Regions from separate parts of the Homo sapiens genome. Here region 2 is linked to region 1. Evidence: fine-mapped QTL for protein levels in blood plasma. A gene starts in region 1. The other region holds a variant in brackets. All regions are shown on one strand. Distances are from middle to middle.

Region 1 (8,522 bases):
CGGGCGGATCACCTGAGGTCAGGAGTTCGAGACCAGCCTGGCCAACACAGCGAAACCCCGTCTCTACTAAAAAATACAAAAATTAGATGGGCATAGTGGTGGGCCCCTGTAATACCAGCTATGCGGGAGGCTGAGGTAGGAAAATCGCTTGAACCCAGGAGGTGGAGGTTGCAGTGAGCCGAGATCATACCATTGCACTCCAGCCTGGGTGACAGAGCAAGACTCCATCACAAAAAAAACCAAAAAGAAATACACAAGGCCAGGCATGGTTGCTTACACTTGTAATCCCAGAACTCTGAGAGGCTGAGACGAGAAGATCACTTGAGCCCAGGCGTTCAAGACCAGCCTAGGCAACATGGCAAAACCCTGTCTCTAAAAAAAAATACAAAAAATTACCCGAGCCTGGTGGCGCACGCCTGTATTCTCAGCTACTCTGGGTGGCTGAGGCAGGATGATCACTTGAGTCCCGGAGGTTGAGGCTGCAGTGAGCCCAGATTTTCCCACAGCACTCCAGCCTGGCCAAGAGAACAAGACCCTGTCTCAAAAAAAAAAAAAAGAAAAGAAAAGAAAGAAAGATGCAATAAATGGGTGCAAGGCTACTTTAGACTGGGTCAGGGAACGTCCCGGAGCTGAAATCTGAGCTGTGGAAAGGAGCCAACCATGAAATCTGGGATGAGAGCAATCTACGCAGAGTAAACAAGTGCAGAGCACCCCAAGTTCAAAGGCCAGACAAAGGAGAAAGTGTGACTGGCCAAGGGTCAGAAATCAGGCTTGCACACCTGAAGTCTGGGGAGTCACAGGACCACAAGAGTCAAGACCACCCTGGGCAACATAGGGAGACCCCGTCTCTCTAAAGAAAGAAAAAAAAGCGGTCAGGCGCGGTGGCTGACGCCTGTAATCCCAGCACTTTGGGAGGCCGAGGTGGGTGGATCACTTGAGGTCAGGAGTTTGAGACCAGCCTGGCCAATATGGTGAAACCCCATCTCTACTAAAAATACAAAAATTAGCTGGGCGCAGTGGCTCAATTCCTGTAATCCAAGCACTTTGGGAGGCCAAGGCGGGTGCATCACCCCAGGTCAGGAGTTCGAGACCAGCCTGACCAACACGGTAAAACTCCATCTCTACTAAAAATACAAAAATGAGCTGGGTGTGTGGTGCGCACCTGTAACCCCAGCTACTCAGGAGGCTGAGGCAAGATAATCGCTTGAACCCAGGAGGTTGCAGTGAGCTGAGATCGTGCCACCGCACTCCAGCCTGGACAACAGAGCAAGACTCTGTCTCAAAAAAAAAAAAAAAAACAAAAACAAAAATTAGCCAGGCATGGTGGCATATGCCTGTAATCCCAGCTACTCAGCAGGCTGAGACCAGGAGAATAGCTTGAACCAGTGAGGTAGAGATTGCAGTGGACCGAGATCATGCCACTGCACTCCAGCCTGGGTGACAGAGCTAGACTCCGTTTCAAAAAAAAAAACAAAAAAGAAAAAAGGGGGCTGGGTGCAGTGGCTCACATCTGTAATCCCAGCACTTTGGGAGGCCGAGGCGGGCAGATCACGAGGTCAGGAGATCGAGACCATCCTGGCTAACATGGTGAAACCCCGTCTCTACAAAAATAAAAAAAAATTAGCTGGGCGTGGTGGCGGCGCCTGTAGTCCCAGCTACTCAGGAGGCTGAGGCAGGAGAATGGCGTGAACCCGGGAGGCGGAGCTTGCAGTGAGCCGAGATCGCGCCACTGCTCTCCGGCCTGGGCAACAGAGTGAGACTCCGTCTCAAAAAAAAAAAAAAAGAAAATTGGGAATCTTAGGGACATCTTCATTAACATTCAGTAATACCTGGTAAGTCCCCCAGCCAACACAGCTCACTGCAACATCAGTCATTACAACATTGGATATTTCTGTAGAGGCACTGTTGCTCATGTGTGGCATGATCCTCAACGTCAGGGAAAAAGACCTAGTAAGTGAAGTCACCTGCAAGGTCACCAGCCTCCCCATGCCTCCAAATCTTACCTGGGCCTCTGTCACATAAGAGGATCCAGCCAAGGATCTGCTCAGGGAACTAACTTGTTGCACATCTTCTATCTCACACACATTTTGTGTTCTCTTCTTTACAGAAGAGGAAATTGAGGCCCAGGGAGCTAACTTGTCTAAAGCCATATAAGAGCCAGAATCTGAACAATGGTTTCTCTTCAGTTCCAAGGCCTTGTCCCAGGACATTGCACTAAATAAAAACACAATTACCCACTTCCGTTCCAAGTTCCCCCAAGTAATAAATTTACGTTATTTCTTTTCTTTTTTTTCTTTTCTTTCTCTCTCTTTCTTTCTTTTGAGATAGAGTCTCACTCTGTCACTCAGGCTGGAGTGCAGTGGCGTGATCTCCGCTCACTGCAACCTCCACCTCCCGGGTTCAAGCGATTCTCCTGCCTCAGCCTTCCGAGTAGCTGGGATTATAGGTGTGTGCCACCATGGGCAGCCAGGTTTTTTTGTATTTTTAGTACAGACGGGGTTTCACCATGTTGGCCAGGCTGGTCTCCAACTACTAACCTCAAGTGATCCGCCCACCTCGGCCTCCCAAAATGCTGGGATTACAGGCATGAGCCACCGCGCCCGGCCTACAATGTTATTTCTGCAAGAACCTAAACTGGTGTTTCCAGTCTATTCTCTGGGTAACTGCCCGATTGAAGGCCCGCATCTGTGCTGACCTCAGCTGGACCAAGGGTCACTTAACTCCCGGAATCTCGAAGCCAAGGCACCGGGCCAAGAACTTCACAGTGCAACATTTGTCTCCTAGAACAGGGGGTGGCAGATTGCGGGCAACAGGAAGAGCTCATTCCCCACAGGGATCTGGTGGCACGGGCCAAAAGTGGAGCGACCCTGCGCGCAGCCTTTAGGGGCGCAGGCTTTGAGAACCCGGGTTCTATTCCGGGCTCTGCCATTTAAGTTGCCTCCTTTCTCAGGGCCCCACCACCTTCCTCACCTGTAAAATGGGGGAAACAGTAGCACTTGACTTGCAGCTTTGTTGTGAAGGAGCTAGGATTGTTTAAATCGAAAATGCTCAACGAGAAAAGTGTTCAGTGGAGAGCTACTACTCACATCCCCGATAAGCCTTCGCATTCTTGCCAAAGGCCACGGGCCGCCACCCCATCATACCGAATGTGCCTGGAACTGGGGCGCTGCGGCTGGCCGCCGCCCGATCCCCAGCCCAGGCGCGACCCAAGCGCTCCCCTCCCGTCATTGCGGCTGCAGAGGGTGGGGTACGGCGGGGGACAGCGAGGACGCCGAAGCACCCCCCGGGCTCTGGGACGCCGCGGCCCTCGGACCCGAAGCCGCCCACCTACCGGAACACGGCCCGCGCACGTACCTAGCGACGCCTCCGTCCTACGCCGCCGCCGGTGCCACCAGTCCCAGACCCGCTGACCCAACGCCCCGCGCACCGCCGCGGGCCAGCCACGTGACCAGCCGCTCCAACCCCAAACCCCGAACTTGGCGCTGGACCGCTCGAGCTCAGGAAGGTGCACTCTGCGCGCCAGGCTTGGGCTTGGCCCCGCCCCCGGAGGCGCCCAATCAGAGAGCGCAGCCAAGCATGGGCCGCCACCAAACGCACCCGCGCTATTGGCTGCGGCGCAGCGGCGGGCAGGGCCTGTTTCTCCGGGGCGGGCCGGAGGCCGCGTAGTGCAGCTGCGCACCTGGGGCAGGGACCTGCAGAACTGACCCGCTTTGGCTGCAGGGCTGGTGTGTGGACCAAGATTTCCAGGAAGACTACACAGGGCCTTCCTCACTTAAGCCTGTCGCTTGGGCCGTGGGATTATGAGTGAATTTTGTTCATGGTACTACTTTTAGTTTGCAGGGTGGTCATTTAAAGTAGGACAAATGTGCGTCCAAACTGCAACATTATTACTCTGTAGGTGTATAATCCAAGAGCAGACACTTTATTATTATTATTTTTGTTATTTTTTATTTTTATTTTTTTGAGACAGGGTCTCACTCTGTCCCCCAGGTTGAAGTAGAGATGGGGGTCTAACTATGTTGCCTCCCAGGAGGCGGAGGTTGCAGTGAGTCGAGATCGCGCCACTGCACTCCAGCCTGGGGGACGGAGCGAGACAACGTCTCAAGAAGAATAAAATAAGATAAATAAAATACTGACACACAATAAGGACTCAATGAACATTACCTATTGTTAAGAATGATAAAAACCGGGGCCACATGTCAGGACCACCTGAGGCTGCGTCATAAATTTTTTTATTTGTCAAATGATAACAATAATTATTATAAGAATGATAAAAACCGGGCGCAGTGGCTCACCCCTGTAATTCCAGCACTTTGGGAGGCCGAGGCAGATGGCTTGAGCCTAGGAGTTCAAGACCAGCCTGGGCAAAATGGTGAAACCTTGTCTCTACAAATAATTTTAAAATTAGCTGGGTGTGGTGGCAGTCGCCTGTAGTCCCAGCTACTTGGGGGGCTGAATGGGAGGATCACTTGAGCCTGGGAGGCAGAGGTTGCAGTAAGCAATGATCTTGCCTCTGTACTCCAGCCTGGGCAACAGAGTGAGACCCTCATCATCTCGAAAAACAAACAAACAAAAAATACAAAAAAAACTTTTTTTTTTTTTTGAGACAGAGTCTTGCTCTGTCGCCCAGGCTGGAGTGCAGTGGCGCGATCTCGGCTCACTGCAAGCTCCACCTCCCGGGTTCACGTCATTCTCCTGCTTCAGCCTCCTGAGTAGCTGGGACTACAGGCCTCCGCCACCACGCCTGGCTAATTTTTTTTTATTTTTGAGACGGAGTCTCCCTCTCTTGCCCAGGCTGGAGTGCTGTGGCGCGATCTAGGCCCACTGCGAGCTCTGCCTCCTGGGTTCATGCCATTCTCCTGCCTCAGCCTCCCGAGTAGCTGGGACTACAGGAGCCCACCACCACGCCTGGCTAATTTTTTGTATTTTCAGTAGAGACAGGGTTTCACCATGTTAGCCAGGATGGTCTTGATCTCCTGACCTTGTGATCCACCTGCCTCAGCCTGCCAAAGTGCTAGGATTACAGGCGTGAGCCACCACACCCGGCTAATTTTTGTATGTTTAGTAGAGATAGGGTTTCACCATATTGGCTAGGCTGGTCTTGAACTCCTGATCTCAAGTGATCCATCCTCCTCGGCCTCCCAAAGTGCTGGGATAACAGGCAAGAGCCACTGCGCCTGGCCAACATAGTGAGTGTTTTTGTTTTTTGTTTTTGTTTTATTTATTTATTTATTTGAGATGGAGTCTCGCTCTGTCACCCAGGCTGGAGTGCAGTGATGCGATCTTGGCTCCCTGCAACCTCTGCCTCTCTGGTTCAAGCAATTCTCCTGCATCGGCTTCCCGAGTAGCTGGGACTACAGGCGTGCACCACCATGCCCAGCTAATTGTTCTTTTTGTTTGTTTGTTTGAGACGGAGTCTCGCTCTGTCGCCCAGGCATGAGTGCAGTGGCTCGATCTTCGCTCACTGCAATCTCCACCTCCCAGGTTCACGCCGTTCTCCTGCCTCAGCCTCCCGAGTAGCTGGGACTACAGGCGCCCGCCACCATGTCCGGCTAATTTTTTATATTTTTAGTAGAGACAGGGTTTCACTGTGTTAGCCAGGATGGTCTTGATCTCCTGACCTCTGATCCGCCTGCCTCGGCCTCCCAAAGTGCTGGGATTACAGGCATGAGCCACCGCGCCCGGCCGTGCACAGCTAATTTTTGTATTTTTCTCACAGACAGGGATTCGCCATGTCAGCCAGGCTGGTCTCGAACTCCTGACCTCACGTGATTCACCTGCCTCGGCTTCCCAAAGTGCTGGGATTACAGGCACAAGCCACCGCGCCCGGCCTGTTGTTTGTTTTTTTGAGACGGAGCCTCTCTCTGTTGCCCAGGCTGAGGTGCAATAGTGTGATCTCGGCTCACTGCAGCTTCCGCCTCCCGGGTTCAAGCAGTTCTCCCACCTCAGCCTCCCAAGTAGCTGCGACTACAGGCGTGCGCCACTACGCCCTGCTAATTTTTGTATTTTTAGTAGAGACGAGGTTTCACTATGTTGGTCAGGCTGGTCTCGAACTCTTGACCTCAGATGATCTGCTCGCTTCAGCCTCCCAAAGTGGTGGGATTACAGGCATAAGCCACTGTGCCCAACCCGTGAGTTTTTTAATATCCAAAGTAAGATTTCTGGGTCAAGCTTTTAGTAAATATTGCCATATTGCTTTCTACAAGCATTGTAACAATTCACACTCCCAGCAACAATTTAGGGAAATACCCATTTCCCATTTCTTCTCCAGCACTGAATGCTTCATTTTTTATTTTTTTATTTTTTTTAGATAGAGTCTCTGTTGCCCAGGCTGGAGTGCAGTGGCGTGATCTTGGCTCACTGCAATCTCTGCTTCCTGGGTTCAAGTGATTCTCCTTCTTCAGCCTCTCGAGTAGCTGGGGTTACGGGCATGCACCATGACACCTGGCTTTTTTTTTTTTTTTTTTTTTTTTTTTGTATTTTTAGTAGAGACGGGGTTTTGCCATGTTGGCCAGGCTGGTCTCAAACTCCTGACCTCAAGTGATCCACCTGCCTCAGCTTCCCAAACTGCTGGGATTACAGGCATGAGCTACTGTGCCCGGCCTACTGATACTTAAATTTTTTTTTTTTTTTTTTTGTTTTTTGAGATGGAGTCTTGCTCTGTCTCCAGGCTGGAGTGCAGTGGCACAATCTTGGCTCACTGCAACCTCTGCCTCCCAGGTTCAAGCAATTCTCCTGCTTCAGCCTCCTGAGTAGCTGGGACTACAGGCACCCACCACCACGTCTGGCTAATTTTTGTATTTTTAGTAGAGATGAGGTTTCACCATTTTGGCCAGGATGGTCTCGATCTCCTGACCTCATGATCCACACGCCTTGGCCTCCCAAAGTGCTGGGATTACAGGCGTGAGCCACCGCGCCCAGCTAAAAAATATTTTATTTGTGGCTGGGCATGGTGACTCAGGCTCACACCTGTAATCTTAGAACTTTGGGAGGCTGAGGTAGGAGGATTGCTTGAGGCCAGGAGTTCAAGAGTAGCCTGGGCAACATAGCAAGATCCCATCTCTATGAAAAATTAAAATTAAAAAAATTATGACATTTTGTGCTACATGATGAAAAAAATTAAAAAGAAAGAAAGAAAATTGGCCAGGTGTGGAAGTGCACACCTGTATTCCCAACTAGTCAGGGTGCTGAGTGGGGAGGATCTCCTGAGCCCAGGAGTTCAAGGCTGCAGTGAGCTGTGATCGTGCCACTGCTCTCCAGCCTAAGATACGGGAAAAACCAAAGCGTTTTTCTTTTCTTTTTTTTCTGCTGTCATCGTATGAAATAGTCTATAGGTTTCCATTATATCCAGTTACAGAGGGTGTTACTGAGTTACAGATTTTCTGCCTGCTGGATCTGTCCGTTTCTGATAGAGGGACATTGAAGTCGCCAACTATAATAGTTTCTCCTTGCAGCGCTGTCACTTTTTCAGTCACATATTTTGATGTTCTGTTGTCAGGATCATACATGTTAAGGACTGTTATGTCTTCTTTGAGCATTGACTCCTTAATCATTATGTAATGACCTGTCCTTATCCCTCACAACTTTCTTTTCTTTCCCTTCCTTCCTTCCTTCCTTTTTCTTTTTCTTTTCTTTTCTTTCTTTTTTTTTTTTTTTTTGAGACAGAGTCTCTGTCAACCAGGCTGGAGTACAGTGGCATGATCTCAGCTTACTGCAGCCTCTGCCTCCCAGGCTCAAGTGAGTCTCGTGCCTCAGCCTGAGGAGTAGCTGGGATTACAGTCGAGTGCAACCATGCCCAGCTAATTTTTGTATTTTTAGTAAAGACAGGGTTTTGTCATGTTGGCCAGGCTTGTCTTGAATTCCTGGCCTCAAGTGATCTGCCCGCCTTGGCTTCCCAAAGTGCTGGGAAGCCACCCAGCACCTGTCCTGTTCCTGATGACTTTCCTTGCCCTGAAGCCTGTACTGTCTGAAATTAATATAGGGACTCCTGCTTCCTTTTGATTAGTGTTGGCATAGTAGATCTTTCTTTATCCATTTACTTTTAATATATACATCTTTAAAGTGTAGTTCTTACAAGGAGCATATAGTTGCATCTTGTTTTTTGCTGTACTCTGACAATCTCTCTCTTTTTTTCTTTTTTTTTTTTGAGATGGAGTCTTGCTCTGTTGCCCAGGCTGGAGCGCAGTGGCACGATCTCAGCTCACTGCAACCTCTGCCTCCTGGGTTCACGCCTTTCTCCTGCCTCACCCTCCCAAGTAGCTGGGACTACAGGCGCCCGCCACCACGCCCAGCTAATATTTTGTATTTTTAGTAGAGACAGGGTTTCACCATGTTAGACAGGATGGTCTCAATCTCCTGACCTCGTGATCCGCCCACCTTGGCCTCCCAAAGTGCTGGGATTACAGGCGTGAGCCACTTCGCCCAGCCCAATCTCTCTCTTTTAATCGGTTAATTTGGACCATTGATATGCAAAGGAATTGTTGATATAATTGGATTAATATCTGCCTTTTTTTTTTTACTGT
Region 2 (2,998 bases), 54 kb before region 1:
GGAGCTTCTATTAAAGACATTTTTAAAAACCTGATTGGGAAGAAATAAACATAAATATAAGCTCTTCAAAGCCAAAAGTCACAGGAATACAATCACCATTCTAATGATATGGTGTATAACTGACGCCTCTTGCATCAGTTAAATTTTCCTCAAACTATTGTATATTAGCTTTTTTTTTTTGTAATGAAGAGCTGAGATGGGACCATATTTTATTAAAAAGAGAACTCCTCATAAATTATAAAGTGATCACCCCATATCCAGGAACCTTTAGGTTGTTAACAGTTGTTATTCTTAAGACAGCGACATATTCTACATATGACGAGGCTGACTACTTTCTCTTGCTTATGATTGAAATATTTTAGAAATATTTTAGCACCTACCTGGCCATACAGATGATAATCAAATTCATAGATCTTGTTGAATTTTGAAAGTCCTTCTCTCTATAAAACAAAAATAAGTAAAAAATATAAATTACGTTTAAAACAATGGATTCCTTTGTATAATTCTTTCTGATCCTGAATTTGGCAATGATTTCTTGGTTATGATACCAAAAATATAACCAACATTGCTCCAAAGAAGATAAGAAATGGCCAACAAGCATATGAAAAGATGCTCAATGTTATTAATCATTAGGAAAACACAAATCAAAACCATGATGAGGTACCACTCCATACCCATTAGGATAATAATTAAATAGAATAATAAAAAAAACAAGTAAAATAACAAGTGTTGTTGAGGATGTGGAGAAATTGGACATTGTCAGTGGAAATGTAAAATGCTTTGGCCACTCTGGAAAATGTTGGTGTTTCCTCAAAAAGTTACAGAGTTATCACATGTCACAGCAATTCCACTCCTACAAATTTACCCAAAAGAATTAAAAACGCATTCAAATACACTTTGGGAGGCTGAGACAGTTGGATCACTTTAGGTCAGGAGTCCGAGACCAGCCTGGCCAACATGGTGAAACCCCATCTCTACTAAAAATACAACAATTGGCCAGGTGTGGTGGTGTGTGCCTGTAATCCCAGTTACTTGGGGAGGCTGAGGCAGGAGAATCACTTGAGCCCAGGAGGTGGACGTTGCAGTGAGTGGAGATGGCGCCACTGCACTCTAGCCTGGGTGACAGAGCGAGACTGTCTCAAAAAACAAAAAACAAACAAAAAAACACATTCAAACAAAAACTTGTACATGAAAGTCTATAGAAGTTCTTTTTTTTTTTTTTTTTTGAGATGGAGTCTGGCTCTGTCGCCCAGGCTGGAGTCCAGTGGCGTGATCTCGGCTCACTGCAAGCTCCACCTCCCGGGTTCACACCATTCTCCTGCCTCAGCCTCCCGAGTAGCTGGGACTACAGGCACCTGCCACCACGCCCGGCTAATTTTTTTGTATTTTTAGTAGAGATGGGGTTTCACCGTGTTAGCCAGAATGTTCTCAATCTCCTGACCTCGTGATCCACCTGCCTCGGCCTCCCAAAGTGCTGGGATTACAGGTGTGAGCCACCACGCCCAGCGAATGTCTATAGAAGTTCTATTCACAATAGTCAAAAGATGAAAACAACCCAAATGTCCATCAACTGATGTATGGTAAAATGAAATATGATCTATCCATATGATAGAATATTATTCAGCCATAAAAAGGAATGAAGAGGCCAGGTGCAATGGCTCATGCCTGTAATTCCAGCACTTTGGGAGGCTGAGGTGGGCGGATCATGAGGTCAGGAGTTTGAGACCAGCCTGGCCAACATAGTGAAACCCTGTCTCTACTAAAAATACAAAAAATTAGCTGGGCGTGGTGGTGGGTGCCTGTAATCCCAGCTACTTGGGAGGCTGAGGCAGGAGAATCGCTTGAACCTGGGAGGCGGTGGTTACAATGAGCCGAGATCTCATCACTGCACTCCAGCCTGAGCGACAGTGAGAGAGACTCCTTCTCAAAAACCAAAAAAAAGGAATGAAGAACTGATATTAATACATGGTACAACATGGATGGACTTCAAGATTATGTTAAGTGAAAGAAACCTGACACAAAAGAGCATGTAAGATATGGGTCCACTTATAGGAAATGCCCAGAACAGGCAAATCCATGGGGAAAGAAGGCAGATTCGTGGTTGTGAGGGGCTGAGGAGAGGGTAAGGGGAGTGACTGCTTAATGGATATGAGGCTTCCTCTTGGGGTGAAAAAAAACCTTCTGGAACTAGATAATGATGATGGTGGCACATTTAGTGGACAAAATTCCACTGAACTATATACTTCAAAATGATTAAAATGGTCAATTTTCTGTGCATTTTACCACTCAACCTACATGGCTCTCTAAGATTCTTATGATCTGCACTCAACTGCTGCTCTTGCTTAACTCATCGGTGTCTCTTCCCACCACACCACACCCCTAACTTCTCACTGTTTCTGAATATGCCAAGCAGTTTCAAGCCACTAGGTTGTTCTTTACAGTTTCTACTGCCTGGTAAAACTTTCAGGCTCAGCTCAAACATGCATTCAACAACTATGAATTTTTTTTTTTTTTTTTGAGACAGAGTCTCACTCTGTTGCCCAGGCTGGAGTGCAGTGGCACAATCTCGGCTCACTGCAAGCTCCACCTCCCGGGTTCATGCCATTCTGCTGCCTCAGCCTCCCGAGTAGCTGGGACTACAGGCGTCTGCCAGCATGCCCGGCTAATTTTTTGTATTTTTAGTAGAGACAGGGTTTCACCGTGTTAGCCAGGATGGTCTCAATCTCTTGACCTCATGATCCGCCCACCTCAGCCTCCCAGAGTGCTGGGATTACAGGTATGAGCCACCATGCCTGGCCTAATTTTTTTTTGAGATGGAGTCTCACTCTGTCGCCCAGGCTGTAATG[T/C]AATGGCGCAATCTAGGCTCACTGCAAGCTCCACTTCCCGGGTTGAAGCGATTCTCCTGCCTCAGCCTCGTGAGTAGCTGGGATTACAGGACCCCGCCACCACACCTGGCTAATTTTTGTATTTTTAGTAGAGATGGGGTTTTGCCATGTTG

Alleles and levels. Positions count from the first base shown, and alleles are read on the strand shown. Strength reflects both the effect of a copy and how common the allele is.
With allele T in place of C in region 2, the plasma level of the protein whose gene starts at base 3,533 in region 1 is lower (strong association).

What was found. A credible set is the group of variants that fine-mapping cannot tell apart. PIP is the chance, under the fine-mapping model, that this variant and not a neighbour inherited with it causes the effect. The UK Biobank Pharma Proteomics Project read protein levels with antibody pairs (Olink). The fine-mapping took linkage between variants from a reference panel, not from the people measured, so its PIPs are less certain.
Region 2: its variant is the best candidate, but not a certain one, in a credible set for the plasma level of the SHMT1 protein (UK Biobank, PIP 0.88).

What each region holds. Positions count from the first base shown.
Region 1 is chr17:18,360,018-18,368,539 of GRCh38, forward strand. SHMT1 (serine hydroxymethyltransferase 1) reads right to left here and starts at 3,533. Exons shown (of 12, transcript NM_004169.5): 1 at 3,355-3,533. RefSeq lists a silencer at 3,158-3,627.
Region 2 is chr17:18,308,502-18,311,499 of GRCh38, forward strand. TOP3A (DNA topoisomerase III alpha) reads right to left here. Exons shown (of 19, transcript NM_004618.5): 2 at 381-440. Among named protein-coding and RNA genes, the nearest start is that of TOP3A, 5.0 kb to the right of the region's middle. The variant T/C (reference allele first, on the strand shown) is at 2,847.